Regions from separate parts of the Homo sapiens genome. Here regions 1, 2 and 4 are each linked to region 3. Evidence: fine-mapped expression QTL. A gene starts in region 3. Each other region holds a variant in brackets. All regions are shown on one strand. Distances are from middle to middle.

Evidence for each region. PIP is the estimated chance that this variant, and not a neighbour inherited with it, causes the effect. A credible set is the group of variants that fine-mapping cannot tell apart.
Region 1: its variant is the best candidate, but not a certain one, in a credible set for the expression of SOSTDC1 in thyroid (GTEx, PIP 0.79).
Region 2: its variant is the best candidate, but not a certain one, in a credible set for the expression of SOSTDC1 in aorta (GTEx, PIP 0.59).
Region 4: its variant is the best candidate, but not a certain one, in a credible set for the expression of SOSTDC1 in gastroesophageal junction (GTEx, PIP 0.80).

What each region holds. Positions count from the first base shown.
Region 1 is chr7:16,203,777-16,208,820 of GRCh38, reverse strand. All of the region lies in intron 9 of CRPPA (CDP-L-ribitol pyrophosphorylase A), which reads left to right. Among named protein-coding and RNA genes, the nearest start is that of CRPPA-AS1, 4.2 kb to the left of the region's middle. The variant A/G (reference allele first, on the strand shown) is at 2,095.
Region 2 is chr7:16,255,497-16,260,540 of GRCh38, reverse strand. It overlaps CRPPA (CDP-L-ribitol pyrophosphorylase A), which reads left to right. Exons shown (of 10, transcript NM_001101426.4): 7 at 1,529-1,621; 8 at 2,059-2,151. The region is part of intron 3 of CRPPA-AS1 (CRPPA antisense RNA 1); the gene reads right to left. Among named protein-coding and RNA genes, the nearest start is that of CRPPA-AS1, 48 kb to the right of the region's middle. The variant T/C (reference allele first, on the strand shown) is at 2,785.
Region 3 is chr7:16,463,417-16,468,460 of GRCh38, reverse strand. SOSTDC1 (sclerostin domain containing 1) reads left to right here and starts at 2,723. Exons shown (of 2, transcript NM_015464.3): 1 at 2,723-2,997. The coding sequence starts at 2,793. All of the region lies in intron 4 of LOC105375168 (a long non-coding RNA gene), which reads right to left.
Region 4 is chr7:16,421,685-16,426,201 of GRCh38, reverse strand. LOC105375168 (a long non-coding RNA gene) reads right to left here. Exons shown (of 5, transcript XR_007060223.1): 2 at 3,165-3,222. Among named protein-coding and RNA genes, the nearest start is that of CRPPA, 2.4 kb to the right of the region's middle. The variant G/A (reference allele first, on the strand shown) is at 2,396.

The DNA of each region.
Region 1 (5,044 bases), 260 kb after region 3:
GGGTAGTATGAACTTCCAACAAGGTTTCAGTCCTCAAGGAATTCATATACCTGGAGATGATATCCTTCAAAATTACCCAGGCATACATATGAAGAATGGGTGATATACACTTATTCTCTACCTTGTTCTACCAAATTTTTAAGATGAATTAGCCAAAGATAGCCTTCTTTGATAAGGGTGGGACACACAATAGTATAGGAGGAGTTGAGAAGAGGACGGCTAATGTTCACCCCGCCTGCCATGCTCTCTCACCTGGTGCAGGGCAGCTTCTGTGTGTCATAAAGGGAGGTTCCATAGAGACACCATAATTTAGAAGATCTTTATGAAGTGAGAAAATTAAATGCTTTATCTTGAAATTATGAAATTACAGACTGCAATTTTTTTTACCTAATGTATTGTTTTTCCAACTCATGTATTTGAAAGGAGATTCAGTATAGAACACTGCAAAATCAATGAAAGTAGTGTTAAGTATGTAAATAGAGGAGATTGGAGCTTTACTTAAGACATATTAAACTGGCAAAAATAGAGGTATAAGTTATTTTTAAAAAATTATCCCTTATCCCTTGTTTTTGTGAGACTTCCTCACCATCCCAACTCATGTCATAACAAAAGGAATTATTTTTGACACTTTATGAGTTTTATGTTTTAATTAAAGCATCATATTAATGGGGGTGCATAGGTAGGCTATATTATTTTGATTCAGGTTAGTGAAGTCAGTGTTACAAAATAATTGCTAGAAAATAGTGTTGTTGCAATTGAGAAAGTTGAGATGCATACAGTAAAAGCATGTAATACAAAAGGTGCTGTGTCTCAGAGGTTGTAGAAAGGTATTTCCAGGGGATAGTTGTATATTAAGTCAAGAGGAATAGAAACAAAAAGAAGGCAATTTGACAAGTGGAATCCTACTGGTAGTCTTCAGGAAAACATGTTGTGGACTTACGGAAAACACTGATATACTTCATTGATATTGATCTGATTTCCTATAACTATTTACTCAGTAAAACTCCTGCTCTATTACTTATATCAATGAAAAATTTAAAATGGGATTTGATTTTAGTCTTTGTCCAGTTTCTGATATTTTGAGTAATGAAATAGTGAAGAAATAATGGCATGACAAATAGTCTAAAAGAACAAACTGAATAATTAGGCTTTGCAAAACTGAGTGTTTTCTAATGTACATGGCATTATTTTAGTGCATTGAAATAAAATGTGTGTATCCTGCTTGCAGCAGTTTTATGTAGACTTTCCTTGAATAATATGTGAGTGAGGGAGATATCTTTGTTTGTTTTCACTTTATGCAACACTAATTATCCAAACTGCATAAGCAGCTGTACAAGGAACTGTGAAATTGCAGTGTTTAACGGAATCCATTGGAGAGCATCACGTTCATGCTTGAGGACTTGAAAGCATGAAGGGTAGGAAATGAAACTAGGTAGGAGAAATGTGAAGTCAACCTAATTTTAAAGATTTGACATTCTAAGTCAGTGACAATAAGACTGAATGCTTTGAAACATTTGCAGCGTATTGCCTAATAGATGCTGTATATCATTTTAGAGCAAAGGTAAGTGATTTCCAAAATCAGGAGCTATCTGTCCAAGAACCATTTTCCAGGAATGAGAGTGGAAGAGTGGTAGAATTTGGTCATATGCAAAATCCCTTACTTTCTTTCCCACTCAGTAAAGAGAATAGTTTGCAAAATAAGGTCATGTGTTTATAGTCTCTGAGAATCCTATCAATGTTTCTGATTTTGATCACAATGGGATTATAAAAGGACTTTCTTCACGGAGAATCAGAAAGGTGTGTAATGTTTGGCATTTGGTTTTGTTTATAGAAAATAGCAAGATTTATTAGTTTTTCATCCATCTCATTACTCACCTTTGACAACTGGTAAGGAAGTATACTTTAATTAAGATTCAAACTTCCTCTTACTGAATGGAAAGTGACAATGTGCTAATGCTGTTTAGAAATGAGTTGGTTTAATAATAAACATATCTACAGTAATTCCTTTTAGACTCTGGATTTTAATGGACAGGAAAAACACAGATGTTTCACACAGACACTATTCATGATTGTTATGCTTTTATCATTGTTTAT[A/G]TGTATGTTTGTAATCACTGTATCATTCTAAAACACTTTGTAAGGAGGAATATAAAGAAATAGTGTTCAAAAAGAGTACCACAGAGAATTTGCCACTTTTTTCAGCTAAAATTTTACCTTGTAATCATTTAATTTTTACTATGTTCTTTTTTAAAAAAAGGTTCAGAATTTGTACTTATGGCTCAAAACTTTCTAAGTCACAATAAAAATAATTAGGCCACAGATCTTATGTACAGACAAATCTTTCAAAAGAGGGGTTCAGAAACACAAGAAACTAAAAGTTCACTATTGAACATACTGCTTTTTTTTGTTTACCACAAATACTTTTGTATTAGAAGTATTGAAGTTAGGACGCAAGTAAAGGAAGTTTAATTTTGTTCATAGGCTTGCAAGCTGAAATCAGCACAATATAAAATGTATTAAAATATGGACCACTAAACTATATATTACCTACTGGTATGTATTTACATCATTGGTCTGAGCCAACCTTATGCTCCATTCTTACTGTAAAGTAAGGTAACAAAAAAAATATTTTGACCCTCCACTGGGGATATGCTTCTGTGAAAATATACCAGTCACTAAATCTTAAGCCACATACAATTTTTTAATGTATGAAGGTATGCATTTGTGGTTTTAGAATACACCTATCTGCATTATACTATTTATTTCTAGTTGCCTTTCAGTGAAGAGTCAGGTCATTTCTTGCTTGTCTACTGGTTAGGTATCTTGGATTCTGACTTGATCTGTTTGGTTTTTAATTTTAAGTAGGAATAATATGTTTTATTAAATATTACTAAGATTTACATTTAATTGTGCCATATTCACCACCTTAATTCTCTTATCCCTTTATTAAATTTCTGGCTTCGTATTTAAGATGTTTTGATGATATTAAAGGATTTTGGCTCTTTAGGGAGGATCATCTTTTTTTTTTTCTTTTATAGTTTAAAAAAGTCCAGCATTAGCAGACATTTGCTTGTAATTTTCTCACTGTAGTAAGAGGAAATAAGCCAAAGCCCCTAGATAAGAAGTTGCTCAAATCTAGTTACTCACTTCCCAGTTCTAGCCCATGGAGAAAGGAATAAGCATGATCCTTGAGTCTGACTTTTTAGATGAAAATGGTTACATAAGGTTTCTAAAGCATGCTGATTATAGAGCAAACATTAAAACATTCAGTGGCAAATCTTTCTGAACTTTGGTAGCAATTTTAATAATGAAGGTATCGTATTTAGCCTAAAAATTACCAGTTTAAGCAACTGCATAAACACAACTGGTGTGGGGGGTGTAATTTTTAACAAGTGACCTGGCCAATATAATTTCAGAGTCTCATTCGTATTTTTTACAGTTGTACCTTCTATATCATAATTTCAGTTTTTCTAATGAATTGAGAACACCAGGCTTTGCCAGCAACATCATGAGAACATGGATTTTCTTCACCAGTAACTTTCTCAAGTCATGTAAATCAGGGTTACATCAGGTTAATTGGGTGTTAAAAATGCATGCCTTTTGTTATTTAGAGTTTAATTATCTCCTCAGGCCTGTGAGGTTAGCTGAGCAATAGCAAATGTGGCCGTTGTTGTGAATTCAAGAACATAAGTAATGGTGAATAGCTGTTTTGCCTTCTGCTGCCTGTGGGACAGTTGTTTGCAAGCCTCTGTCTTGCCAAGTGCTGTGTATATTGCATTGAGATTAAAGATCTTTTCAGCTGGTCTGTATTTGGGGCTTAATAAGAAAGCATATGTGTTAAGAATCGTGGAGAGATATCTCCTCTAGGTCTTTGAATTATGAATTCTCTGATGTAAAATATACAGTAAAGAAAAATAATCAGTAAGAATCCAAAACGTTACCAAGTTATGATTTTTAAAAAATCTTAGGAAAGTCACAGAAGTTACTACATTTGATTCTACTGTTACAGATGCCTTGGCTTTATCAAAGCTTATGAAGACAGGGAACTATCTCTATATGACTTTTCAGTTTTACTTGGTGCTAAACTTGAATGAATTATCTCAAAATTCTGTAGTTTGACTCAAAATTCCAAAGTTTGACTTAGGTATGGTGGCTAAATGATTGCTGACTCTGTGCCTTCTCAGTTTTGTTTTTTTTGTTGTATAAATTTAAGGGAGAACAAGTGCAATTTTGTTACATGCGTATGTTGTGTAGTGGTGAAGTCTTGGCTTTTAGTGTATCTACCATCTGAATAGTGTACATTCTGCCCATTATGTCGTTTCTCATCAATTTCCCCCTTACCCCACTTCCCTGCTTCCAAGTCTCCAATGTCTATCATTCCCCTCTTTGTTCATGTGTACACGTTATTTAGCTCCCACTAATAACTGAAAACTTGGTATTTGAGTGTCTGTTTGAGTTGTTTCACTTAAGATGATGGCCTCCAGTCCTACTCATATTGCTGCAAAATCTCAGAATTTTAATTGGTTTATATTGTTTGGATATTAATTTGATTCAGATTAACCTTTCCTCAATTCAATTGTCATATAGTTTTCTGATGCTTATGACATTGTAGATGGAAGTGTGTAAAAATTTTTTGTCCAACATGCCAAATTCATTTAAAAATTTAAAAAGGAAAATGTAGACTAAAATGTGTAAATTGCAAAATTATAACTTAGGTGATTAGAGTGACAATTTTTAATGAGCTAGGAAATACATGTTCACCACAGTTTGCTAAATAACATAGATACGCAATTTTTAAATTTCATCTCAATTTTTAACCAGTATCCTTAAAATTTTGAATATAGTGATCTTTGTTTTTGTAACATGAATTAATACGTGTGTCAAATCTTTATGTAGATTTGTTGCTATATGGATTCCAGTATTTTGCTTCCTGAATAAAATTTTATGATGATTTAAAATGCAGCCATGCATGTCAGTTTCAGCTAAATTTACTGGAGGAGGATCCAGGCAGAGTGGTTTTTAAGCCAATTGAATTAATTGATGAGCT
Region 2 (5,044 bases), 210 kb after region 3:
AGAAAAGACCATTTATAACCACAGCAGTAGCAAGAACAAAAATGTAGCACTCGGTTTTTTTCTGAATTCCAATTTCCATGGAGAGATGCAATTAGAGTTAGTTGTTGCTGGGCAGTAGAGTTCTTTAAAAAGAACCTTGATAGTAGGAAACCCTGGCCTTATACAGGCAAATCAGCCCATCTGCTCCTCAAGAGATAACTCTGGAATGCCAAGTAAGCCTAATCCAGAGAGAGAGAGATGTCCCCATCTTACTGGAAAATAAATCTGTTCTAGGAAGAAATATCTCTATCTCTGCAATTTGTACAAACATCCTTGCAAAGGAAGTATGGAACAAGTTAGCTGTTAATGCCTTTGAAAATGTTTGAATACATGAAGGACTTTTGAAAAATTGTCTCCCTGTAATATCTAGATGTTACCACTTGATCAAACTTACTATCGCAGAATGGATACTGGTTTCTTTTTTTATTGTGGTGTTAATATATTGTTGATGACTATGGACTTTTTGGCTTTTTTCTTAAAAATCTTTGAGCTTTATGCTCAATATGAATTTTAAACTGAACTAAAATTTTTAAAATTTAATAGCCAACTAATTTCTAGAGTAAAGCTAAGACCTTGAAAACTTTCCTTTCTCATTCTCCAGTATTTTGTCAAAATTATAGCAAATTAAGCTACTAAATAGATAATGTACAGAGTTACAGAGTTTGATGTTTCACCAAGGAACAGCACTGTATTATTTTTAGAACTATGAAATGTAAAGCATTCTAAATGTAATACCAGTAAGAATCACTGAAATGTGATTTCCTGTGGAATTATTATAGCAAAGATATCACAGATCCCTTGTCTAGTAATTCTTAAGTTTTTGTTCATATTGTGATGATAGAAAAATCTTAAAAGAAGCTAATTAGAATATTAAACTATATGGAATAAAAAATCTTACTAGGAAAGTTTGCATAATATGTGTTCTTCTCTAAATCTAATCTAATCTCGGACTACTTATAGTAGTAGAAGTAAGTTCCCGACAGTTTTAGGAATAGTTTGTGTAGTTTAAGTCTTAATTCTCTCTCACTTATATTGTTGTGATGATTTCTTACTGCTTTCCCCATTTCTAGTTATTTCAGGTTTAGTGAAGTCTATTCCCTGTATTAAAACTGTGTTATGTGCTTCCAGATACCTGCAATCATCACTGCACCCTTTCTCTTTTAGTCCTTCAACATGCTCTTCAATATTTATTTGTATAAGATAAACCAGACTACTAGCCTGTTCCAGAATATATTCTGTTTATGTCCATATTTTTTTCCTATGTGAAACAATTTTCTATATCCTTGTTTGCTAAAATATGCATTATTCATAGCCTAGTTCAAATGACTATTTCTTGATAGCCTGATGAACTTCAGCATGTTTCATTTTTTTAAAAAATATATGGTCCTTGGCTTTATGGGCCTTCTAGCAATTATGTGTTCCTTTGTAACAAAGATGTTTATGTTTGGTCTATCTAATTTGTGAATTCATTTCTGTTTTTTCCTACTAGCATGTAAAAGTCACATCTGAGGCTCTGGGTCATGCTGGCAGACATCTTCAGCAAATCATCTTAGATCAATGCTACAATTTTGTTTGTGTGAATGTAAGTCAATTCAAATGATTGAAGGCACTTAAGGATATGAACAAATGTGGAAGAGAACTAATTTGATTCTTAAATATTTATATATGATATTATGATGAGTTCTTCTACACATTTTTGGAGATTTTATCTTTGAAAGAGAAATAATACTTTCAACAAGCTAATTCCCATAATGAGAAGAGTGGTATTTTGGACAATATTTTCAATTTTGTTTGTACCTGGTCCAAAGTAGGTAATAAGAGGCAGGTTTGACTCAATTAGTAGATAAAAATTTGACATGTATAACTTTATGGATATCCTTTAAAATTGTTTCTAAATTAAAAACTAAGTTTGATAAATATTTTGAATGTTATGCAGAATCTCTCCATTTATTCCTTGAAATAAGTTTTAAGTCATTTAAAAACGTCTTCTCATATCCTTTTATTTTTCTGGTCTTTTAGGTTACAACCTCTGATTTTCAAGAAACCCAGAAGTTACTGAGCATGCTTGAAGAGAGTAGTCTTTGCATTTTATATCCTGTTGTTGTTGTTTCAGTAAGTGAAATTAATGCAGATTTTTCTCAAACTTATGCTTCCTTCTTTGTAACTCAATGTACATATTTTTAAAAACTCATCCAATTGAGAGCATTGACCCATACTCAAAAGAAACTCTTGTTTGTGGATTCCTCTGCTTACTCTCTAGCTATGACTTCTATGACTGAATGCCTTTATTATTGCAATCATTTGGTTGAACTGACAGGTTTGGAAATCTTTTTCAACCCAGCAACCAATTTCATATTTTTTTCCTTCACTAAAATGGCAAAGTATTCGGTTTAAGTCAACTGGTTGTTTGGATATGTAAAACAGCTTTATTTAATATATTATCAGAATACCATTAGGGAAGCATTCCAGATGTTAATGTGAGGAAAAAACCTCGTGGAAGAAAGCTGATTCTTGGGTTGTTTCATTTTCTCTGTTCCACCGAAAGCAAAAGTAGAACACGAATTAAAGAGAATTCCTGGAAGAATGGCCTATGAAAAATTTTGGGAGATTTTTCCATGAAAATCTAAAAGTATACATTTAATGCAGAATTTATTTGATTAGCCCATTAAACTATATAGCAGAGGGGACTATCAGAGAGTAAACTCAGGAAGGAACAAAATCAGAGCCCAAGTCCTCTAAATTGGC[T/C]GAGGAGCAGAATGTATAGTTGGTAGCATTTTGCTGTGTGAAGGGGTTCCAGACCATAAATTCTCAGAAGTGCCTAGCAGCTTCGAAGTTCCTAAAGCTCAGGCCCATCCCATACTGTGGGAATTTAATTCTTGTCAGGTAGGATTAGTAATAAAGAATAAAGATAATTTGCAATATAAATAACTCTTGACTGAGTAATGCAAGTAGTAACAAATTAGCAACTATGGGAGATTTAATTAATTCAGTGGCCTCTTTATTTGGTCATATACCATAAAGATAACTTTCATGGTTGCATCTGGTTTTGAAACCCAAGCTTCTTATGTAATTGATCTTCATAGAACACAAGCTTTCATTGAGATTTTTAGAAACAATATGGAATATATCCAATGTTGGAAGCCTCTGAGGCTCTGTAGGATAGAGATAAGTTCAAAGTTCTGTGTTTGGCCTTTTATTCCTCTCTCCACATTTACTTGCTTAGAAATTTCATTTTTCCGTGTTCCCAGATATGGTGATGAGGCCGTCCAATGTAGTGAAAATAACAAAGGCTTTGAACTCAGAACACTTGTTTCTTGGTCTAGTTACTTAATTGTTCTGAGGTTTGGTTTCCTCGACGTAGAAACAAGGCTAATAACTCTACTTCTTAAGTTGTTATAAGGATGAAAGTGAATGAATGCAAAATGTAGTTTCTAGCACACTGCTAGGCCCTGATCAGGCATGTGAAGTTAGTTCTGTTTAATAGTATGGTCCTCTTTTTTTGTCTTTGGATGAGATGACTCCAAATTAACTTCCACAGCTCTAATCTGATTCCTAAGCTTCAGCCATGTATTTCCCAACATTTTTTTAAAATTATACTTTAAGTTCTGGGGTACATGTGCACAATGTGCAGGTTTATTACATAGGTATACATGTGCATGCTGGTATGCTACACCCATCAACTTGTCATTTACATTAGGTATTTCTCCTAATGCTATCCCTCTCCCAGCCCCCCACTCCCCAACAAGCCCCAGTGTGTGATGTTCCCCTCCTTGTGTCCATGTGTTCTCATTGTTCAGCTACCACTTATGAGTGAGAACATGTGGTGTTTGGTTTTCTGTTCTTGTGTTAGATTGCTGAGAATGATGGTTTCTAGTTTCATCTATGTCCCTGCAAAGGACATGAATGCATCCTTTTTTATGGCTGCATAGTATTCCATGGTGTGTATGTGCCATATTTTCTTTATCCAGTCTATCACTGATGGGCATTTGGGTTGGTTCCAAGACTTTGCTATTGTGAACAGAGCTGCAATAAACATACGTGTGCATGTGTCTTTATTGTAGAATGATTTATAATCCTTTGGGTGTATACCCAGTAATGGGATTGCTGGGTCTAATGGTATTTCTGGTTCTAGATTCTTGAGGAATTGCCACACTGTCTTCCACAATGTCACCAACAGTGTAAAAGCGTTCATATTTCTCCACATCCTCTCCAGCATCTGTTGTTTCTTGACTTTTTAATGATTGCCATTCTAACTGGTGTGAGATGGTATCTCATTGTGGTTTTGATATGCATTTCCAGTGATGATGAGCATGTTTTCATGTTTCTTGGCTACATAAGTGTCTTCTTTTGAGAACTGTCTGTTCATATCTTTCACCCATTTTTTATGGGGTTGTTTGATTTTTTCTTGTAAATTTGTTTAAGTTCCTTGTGGATTCTGGATATTCGACCTTTGTCAGATAGATAGATTGCAAACATTTTCTCCCATACTGTAGGTTGCCTGTTCACTCTGATGGTAGTTTCTTTTGCTTTGCAGAAGCACTTCAGTTTAATTAGATCCCATTTGTCAATTTTGGCTTTTGTTGCCATTGCTTTTGGTGTTTTAGTCATGAAGACTTTGCCCATCTTTATGTCCTGAATGGTATTGCTTAGGTTTTCTTCTAGGGTTTTTATGGTTTTAGGTCTTATGTTTAAGTCTTTAATTGATCTTGAGTTAATTTTTGTATAAGGCATAAGGAAGGGATCCAGTTTCAGCTTTCTGCTTATGGCTAGCCAGTTTTCCCAGCACCACTTATTAAATAGGGAATCCTTTCCTCGTTGCTTGTTTTTGTCGGGTTTGTGAAAGATCAGATGGTTGTAGATGTGTGGTATTATTTCTGAGGTCTCTGTTCTGTTCCATTGGTCTATATATCTGTTTTGGTACCCAGTACCATGCTGTTTTGGTTACTGTAGCCTTGCAGTATAGTTTGAAGTCAGGTAGCGTGATGCCTCCAGCTTTGTTCTTTTT
Region 3 (5,044 bases):
GGTTATTACAGTTTGTGGTTATCCTTCACTTGATCTGAGCCAAAAGGCCGAGAAGCAATAGTTTGTGGTTATTTTTAATGGAGCTGTTTTAAACTGATCAGAATAACTGTTAAGTATTAAATTTATGATTATTTCTATTTTAGCAAAGTAGTTTTCTTTCTTTTTATTTATTCATTTATTTTGAGACAGGGTCGCACTCTTGCCCAGGCTAGAGTGTTGCGGTGGTATCATGGCTCACTGCAGCCTCAACACCCCAGGCTCAAGCGTTCTTCCTGCCTCAGCCTCCCGAGTAGCTGGGACTACAGGCATGAATCACCATGCTCAGCTAGTTTTTATTTTACTTTTGCAGAGACAAGGTCTTACTATGTTGTCCAGGCTGATCTCGAATTCCTGCGCTCAAGTGATCCTCCTGTCTTGGCCTCTTAGAGTGCACGATTACAGGCAGAAGCCACTGCACCCAGCCTCAAAATAGTTCTCTAGGGGTCTGTCGGGTAAATTGGGCCTAAGAACTCTGAGTTTGTCCTGTCCACATGCACAACGACATTGCCTTCTCTTCTAATTTTGCTTCTGCCTGAGGTGATATCCTAAGGCTGAGCCTTCAGAATACTAGGTGCAGCAGATTTAATAACTGTGCGTGAATTTGGTCAACCTCATTAGCCCAACCCGATAATTAAATTCCAATTAAAATATCTCCTGCTTCTGACACAGAAAAAGAAAAAGTAGTGAGGAACAGATTAGATTATTTTGACCTTTTAATTTCCTTTAGGCATTGGGTCTGTAGGTCAATGATTAATATTAACATGCTTTGTGTAATTAACATCAAGTCCCCTGATAAGTAGGGCAGGAAATTCTTCATAGTTAGTATTTTAGAAGGATGCCTGTAATCTCCATTTGCACAAAATAAACTGACATATGATTTTCCAGGAAGGATGTTAGAATAAATGACTATCCAATCGTAGGATAGAGATATATTGTTAGTAGGAAGTATACGTCCATTAAACTGATTGTCTGACTCTGGTTTTTAAACTTTTTATTATGTAGAATTTGGAACATACACAAGAATAAACAGAATATAATACTTTACCATCCTACTGTAACAACCATCAACTTATAATTAATCTTTTGCCACTCACACCTCTAACCTCCTCATATTATTTTTGAAGCTTATTCTAGCTTATTCCATATAATGTAAAAGATGATATAAAATCATTTCATCTAAGGATATTCCAGTATATACTTCTAATAGAGAAGCAGTCATTGTTTTAAAACAAAACTACGGTACCATTTCTGTCCTAAAAAAGAACAATAATTTCTTGGTATTATAATATTTTTCCTTTATACTTATTTTTACTTTCTTTTATAGTGAGATAGATGAATAGATAATTAGTGGTTAAATTGGGGGTGATTTTACCCTGTAGGGGTCATTTGGCAATGTTTGGAGTTATTTTTGTTACCAACTAGGGGGGTGCTACTGGCGTCTAGTCGTTAGAAGCCAGGGATGCTGATAAACACACAGGATGGTCCCCCAATAATAAAGAACTGTCTCTTCCAAAATGCCAGTAGCGCTGCTATGGAGAAATTCAGGTAGGCAGACATATAGGCAAATGGCAGTTACAAGGGACAAAAGCTTATACAGAAAAGAGATACAAAATTAGGTGATTTAGGTAACCACACAAAGGACAAAAATGGATTTATAATTGAAAAGATGATTCAGAATAGTTATTCCAATTGAGATGTCCCATGATGAAATAGAATTTTATGATTGTTTTAAAGGGATCATCAGTGGCCTATAATTAATTAATGGAACACGTGTTCTGGGTGCCGGTAAAGTAATTCAGAAAAATAGGTTTCTTACTTGGGCAGCAGAGTCAAAGGAAGTAATGAGCAAAATATTTAGTAAATACGAGTAGAATCTGTGTTCTGAAAAAATCTAGAAAAAATTATTTTGAATCCGCTAAAAAGTCTGTCACAAATGGCTTTATGTAAAACAATGCTATGGATATTAATGCTTGTGACACATTTTTAAGACAAAAATGAGTATTACTTACTTTAATGTAGACAGAACTATGCTCATTATTCTCCACACAAAACCCCTGGCAATAATTTACCTAGCAGCACAGTAGTTCTTGTAGATCAAAGCTGCATTATTTAAGCATGTCCAGGGGGCAGGTTTTAGCTCTGTGCCTTTTACTTTAAGGAAAAAAAAATATTGGTTTGCTTCTTGAGAGAAAGCAATGTTTAGCTAACTAGGTGCTTCATGCAAGTCCTGCAATATTTAAACTCACATGAATTCCTCCTGTTATCTGGGAAGAACTCCCTTTCTGACCCAAATACTCTAAAATCTGAGGAAAGTACAGAACAACTGTGGGAAAGCCAGTCTCTTCAAATGAACAGCGATGTATTTTCGTTTAAATTAAACCCGAATGTTAACTAGATTCAGGAAAGGAAATGGCAGAGGAGAGTCTGTCGTTGATATAGAATACGCCTGCCTGCGTCGGCTCACAGACAAGTGATGAAGTCCAACTCTGAAATTTCAGGCAATTTGTATACCAAGCTCCTCCTTTTCTGCAGTCTTCTTTTCCATTGGTAAAATTCTTTTGCAGGGTCATGTAGGGATCCCACCCCTTCTCTGTGTTTTCACTCTGAAGCTCTACACAACTTTACACCTGAATGAACGCCAAACCTCTATGGATATATAAAGGGAAGCTTGAGGAGGAATTTCACAGTTACAGTGCAGAAGCAGAAGCAAAAGAATTAACCAGCTCTTCAGTCAAGCAAATCCTCTACTCACCATGCTTCCTCCTGCCATTCATTTCTATCTCCTTCCCCTTGCATGCATCCTAATGAAAAGCTGTTTGGCTTTTAAAAATGATGCCACAGAAATCCTTTATTCACATGTGGTTAAACCTGTTCCAGCACACCCCAGCAGCAACAGCACGTTGAATCAAGCCAGAAATGGAGGCAGGCATTTCAGTAACACTGGACTGGATCGGAACAGTAAGTGTGTTTTACTTGTACAGTTTTTTTTTTTCTTTTCTGGTAGCATTAGCTCACATTCCTGTAGAATTGTTTTATTGGTAACTAACCTGAACCGTATATATGTTGTGAAACAATTTGGGAGTAATCTGCTGCATGTGCAGGTTGGCATTCTTCCCTAGGTAGTGATTTTAAAGTTAACCTAACTAAAACAGTGGTTTAATAGTGCAAGCACAGACTGAAGTTTTATCAAACATCCACAAAGAAAACATTTCCAGGAATTAAACTATTGTTTTGTCAAAATCATGCAAAATGACCATTTTAAAAAGTATTGTTTTAGATAGCTCAAGTTCCGGTTGTTTTGTCAATTTATTTCAGGGCATATGCAATTTTGGTAAAGTGTATAAACGTAACTAATATATATTATTAGTTACCATCCACAAATAAATATAGGGAATCACAAGGGAAAAAAGGAAGCTTCCAGGAGAAAAAATTTGTTTACATTGGATTTCTAAAATATGTCTAGTGAGATAGTCAAAAGTTTTGATGATGCTCAATGTAAAAGAGGGATAAACTAAAAATGTTGGAGAATCACATTTTTCTAAAATAATTCCTTGTTGTCCCATTCAAAATTTAGATAATTGTGTATTTCTGTGACAGACTGGGGACATTTTTGTAACTTAAGAGATGTAAAACAACAGCTTAGTTGACACACTAATTGACCACTGGTTAGGGGGATTCAAATTACCCCTAACTTTTGTTTCTATCTTTTCCTTTAGAAGAGGCCATATGCTAATAATCAGGTTTTAAGAGAGAGAGAGAGAGAGAGAGAAACACTGCGCAGGAAATCTTACACAAATCTTTTGCCTCTCCTTCTTCACTCCATTCAACTACGAAAAGTAGTTTTGACTTTTGAAAAGTCAAAGCAAATTTGACTGTTAATGTCTAAGAAAGCTAGGATGTTTTAACTTTCACGAAGCTGGTTGCTTTTAAGTACACAGGACATATCTGATTATTATTAGATTACTGAGCAATGTGGTGGGTATTCGTTGTCAATGAACTGTCACTGCAAAAATGCCAAATCTGTATATACACAGGAACAGAAAGCTTGACGAGACAAAATTATTTCTGGCTATTTCCAGGTGCATTCCTGAGGCAGCTGCAGGAAGGTGAGCTGGAGGCAGAATCAGGCACGCTGAGCACACTGTCCAACCAAACAATTTACGCTTTACATTTTAATCCCACAATTCTAGATTTCTATGCATGCATGTCTATATACATAAGTTTTTCCACAACTATCACGTTCCCCTTAAGCTATATCTCTTACCTCAGAAGTACTAGCATACAGAGATGAAGTGAAACTCCTGATTCAGTTCTACTTCGACGTATCTTTCAGTACTTTTTGTGGAACCACTTCAGTGTCCCTTATCATTTTTATTTGTAAAATGTCAGCAGCCTGTACTTTTAAACATCCTTTTTTTTTTTCCTGGTTGGCAAGCCTTGATTTCTTTTCAAGCTTGTTATAGGCAATTCTCCTCAAGTTTAGATAACAAAGCAAGGGTAAGGAAAACTTAAAATATTTAAAGATTAATTTTTGCTTTAATTACATAAGGCATGTAACAAGAAACAGCCAATTAGAGAACATACCTATCAAATCCAAATAACTAAAACAAAAAGTTTGCCATGACCAATATTCAGGAAATGAACACCGTGGTTCCTTTTGCAGTTGTAAATCAGACATGTTAGGCATTTTTCTGCCATAAAATTCATGGAAATGTAGCCAAGTTGTTATGGCAACCATACGTTCCTGATTTAGGGGCTTTTATATTCTTTGAGTCTTGAGTTGTAGTGGCATTTTACATTTCAAACATGTTACTGTTTGTATTTTTTAAAAGATAGTTTGGGAATTTATGTTTAAAACATAGTTATTAAGTTTGATATGCAAAATGTCAGATGTTGTACACATGTATGTCTGAGTCTCTGCAGCTAAAGTCTATAATTGAAATAAAATATTACCGAGAGCATATGCATTATACACAATATTTAAATGGCTATCACATTTTTTCTC
Region 4 (4,517 bases), 42 kb after region 3:
GAGAAAATATTTGCCAAAGTAATATCAGATAAAAAATTGTTCTTCAAAATAAACAAAGAACTCTCAAAACTGAACAATAAAAACACAAATGACCCAACTAAAAAGTGGGCCAAAGACTCTGACACCTCACCAAATATGATACACATGACAAATACGCATATGAACAATGCTCAACATCATATGTCATCAAATAAATACAAATTAAATCAACACTGAGATACCACTACACACCTATTAGAATGGCCAACATCCAGAACACTGACACACCAAATGCTGGTGAGGATGTGAAGCAACAGAAACTCTCATTCATTGCTGGTGGGAATGCAAAATGGTATACCTATTTTGGAGGACCGTTTGGCCGTTTCTTACAAAACTGACCATACTTTTGCCCGTGCAATTCAGCAATCTTTCTCCTTGGTATTTACCCAAAGGAATTGAAAATTTTTGTACACATAAAAACCTGCACAGAGGAACAGAAAACCAAACACCGCATGTTCTCACTTATAAGTGAGAGCTGAATAATCAGAACACGGGGAGGGGAACCACACCGGGACCTGTAGGGAGATGGGGAGTGGGGAGGGAGAACATTAGGAAAAATAGCTAATGCATGCTGGGTTTAATACCTAGGTCAAGGGTTGATAGGTACAGCAAACCACCATGGCATACGTTTACCTTTGTAACAAACCTGCACATCCTGCACATGTACCCCAGAACTTAAAATAAAATTAAAAAAAACCCTACACAGAGATGTTTATTACAGCTTAATCATAATTGCCAAAACTTGGAAGCAAACAAGATGTCTTTCAGTAGGTGAGTGAATAAATACATCACAGTACATCCAGAAAAAAAAAAAAAATCAGTGTTAAAGAGAAAGAAGCTGTCAAGCCATGAAAAGATATGGAGAAAACTTAAATGCATATTACTAAGTGAAAGAAGCCAATCTGAAAAGAATACTGTATGGTTCCAACTATATGATGTTCTGGAAAAGGCAAAAGCATGGAGGCAGTAAAAAGATAATTGGATGCCAGGGATTGGGCAGGGATTAGAGGAGAGGAAGGCATGAATAGACAGAGGATAGAGGATTTTAGGGCAGTGAAATTACTCTGCATGATACTGTAATGGTGGATACACATCACTGTAAATTTATCAATCCTATAGAATGAATGTACAACACCAAGTGTGAACTCTAACGTAAACTAGGGACTGTGGGTTATAATGATGTGTCACTGTAGGTTCATCAGTTGTAACCAATGTACCACTCTGGTGGGAGATGTTAATAATGTGGGAGGCTATGTATGTGTGGGGCAGGGAGCTATTGGAAATTTTTGTACCTTTCTCTCAATTTTGCTGTGAACCTAAAACTACACTTAGTCTACTTTAAAAAATTAAAGGCATGCCAAAGCCAGGTTATGAAATCGTGGTATACATTTAACAAAGTTATGCTTTAAACATTTATAATACATTTTTAAATTCACAAGACAAAGGATTTATTTTAAAAGTCAATACTGGGGTTCTAGTAACGAGACATAAAGTTGAATGAACAGTGCCTTATTTTTTCAATCATATTACTGCATTTCTAACTACGTATAACTTCATTTGCAGATTATAGTCCAAATGAGAATCTTCCTCAGTGTGAAGCCTGTATTAGTTTCCTCTTGCTGCTATAATAAATTACCACAGATTTAGCAGCTTAAAACAACTCAAGTATGTTATCTTACAGTTCTGGATATCAGAAATCTGAAAATGGGGTGGCAGGGCTATATTATTCTGCAGGCTCTAAGAGAAAAACCTGTTTCCTTGCCTTTTCCAGCTTTTAGAGGTTGCCTACATTCCCACCCCTCTGCACTCTGATGGCTGCTTCCATCCTCATACCTCCTTCTCTAACTCTGACCTCTCTCCTATAAGGATGCCAGAGATTACACAGGGCCCACCTGGATAATCCAGGCTACTCCCCTCCATCTTGAGATCCTTCACTTAATCACATCTGCAATGTCTCTTTAGCAGTGTAAGGTAACATATTCATAGCTTCTGGAGATAAGAGCATGGGCATCTTTGGGGAGTCATTATTTTGCCTACTTGGAAGCTCAAAATGGAAACCACTCCAGGAACTTCCAACTCTGCATGCTCTGCCTCATGATTCAGTTGGGGTTTATTTTTTCTAAACTCTTCAAGTGATATCTTAGAATTGTTATTACCAATGGGTCCCAGAGGAGTTCACTTTTCAGGGTATGTACTTTCACATGCCTGATGCAGAGAAGATATTCTCATATTGTGGCTGCTATAACTTGGTATTAAGTAACAAGGAAGCTACATCTGTTACCCCAAAGTATGCAAAACATGGAACTAATTATATTTATATAAAAAGGACAGAGAGAAAAATGTTGCTTCATACTAC[G/A]TATATGAATGAATACTTTAATGTGCCCTTTTTTCTCTACAAGTTGGTCTGCTAGACATTGTTAATATACAGTATATAAGATCTAAGGATCTAAGGATTCATGGAAGATCTAAATTGATATATCTGCTCTAAGAACAAAACTAAGATTCTAGTTAAAATTTGTCAATGTTTAATTATATAAAATTATTCTATAGCAATTAGTATAACAAGAGCTTTATTACTCTACTTTTCTTCACTCAAGATTAAGTAAAGGAAGAATACCTTTATAACAACTCCACCTTTAGATTAAAAAGGGAGGTTTAAAGATCAATATTAATAGAAATACTAATTCGATTTGCCTTCCTGCTCTCATAGATAGACTCATTTATTTATCCACCCAGTTAGTCAACAGATATTTAAATGCTTGATACAGGTGTGGTAGTGGCGCTATGAAGTCAAGTATTGTGCCAAACTTGTTTAATATAGTTGCTGCCTGGGCATCCATTTTTAGGCCTGATATAAGCTGTTTGAAACCCAGTTGTATCACGTCACCTGTGGCCTACTTAAAACTTCCCCTCCCTGTGATATAGAACACTTATTCCTCATTCCATGACCAAAAACCCAACAGCTGCTAACCATGATAAAACCCAATGGTCAACACCAGAGTCAAGTTCTCCCTTTGCTGGTGTTTTCTTTAAACTAGTCAATCCACAACCCCCTCTGGAAAGCCTAAGGGATAAAGCCTTTGGACCTTAACACAGCCCCACAGGTCCTCTCTCTTGCACCCCACCTGCTGGTTGGGAGTCCTGTTATCTCCAGACTTCCATCAGGCTTATTCTCTGGTGAATCTGTAAGTAATAAAATGCGCCTGTTATTTCACATGTTTTGTGTGCTGCCTCCTCTGGCGTCTCACCTGCACACCAGAACCTAGCTTTCCTCTCTGGGCCAGGGCTCTCCTGAAGAGTGGCTGTTCTGGCTTATGGCCACTCGTAAGAGAGAGACCTCGAGATCAAATTAGAAAGGAACGATAGCAATAAAAATTACAAGGAAGTATATTATGGCACCCACTTTTCAGTTAAGAAACCAACTAGCACAGGACCTAAATGCTAATTATAATAAAAGTAACAAAAGTGAAAGAATGCCTTCAATAAGACTAAACAAAAAGGAAAAGCAGAAAACATATTTTTATATGCTCTCAAGAAAACAGGTAAAAATAAAAATTGTAATACTACAACTAGATAACATTTCCAGTGTTTAAAAAGATTATTTTTTATTAATCATAAGCCACTGGATTAAGACTGAATTACTGATGATTATACACTTTAATGATCATTAATCTATTTAATCAGCAATTCATTCAATACATATTAAGCTTGTGTTACATTCCAGGAGCTGGGCACACACACACAACCCAAGCCAAAAGAAAAATGTTGCTGCTTGCATGGAGTTTACATTCCAGGGACCTAATACAATAGTGCTCTCCTCCAAATTCTCACTATACTTTCATGGTAAACCTCACCAGCAACAAGAGTACTAAATAAGGTAAGATATGCTTTAGGCCTGGAATTCTTCAACTTTGGCCTACTTCTGTATGAGGGCCTTAAGGCTCCTCTGCCATTAGTTGTGCAATCTTACATAAATTAACCATTTTAACGTCTTTTCCCCTTTGTAAAAAGGGAAATGGCAATAGTTGAGTTCTTCTGGGGACTAAATGACATAAGGTGTATCGATTGTTCAGCAATTAGTATTGCTTTGACCCTATGGTTCCAAAACATGCCTGCTCATCAGAATCACCCGAGGATCTTTAAAAACATTCCAAAGTCCGGTGCTCACCAGACCAATTAAATCCCAATCTCTGAGCGTGTCAGGACACGCTCCCCAGGTGGTTCCAAAGTGCAGACAAGTTTGAGAGCCACCACAGTTTGGATTATTGATGTGCCACAATAACACTTGCTAATCCATCTGTCTTTACCCCAGGTGGAACCAGGAAGCCTCCAGAGCTTAATGGAATTCAGATAATCGAGGTGCATACGCACCCTACGTCCCATCCTGTGACTTGAATCCCAATCTCTTCCGAAATTTTAAAGCAGGGAGGGATGGGACAGAGGCCTGACCTCTCCTGCATACTCATGGCCCTTGAGTA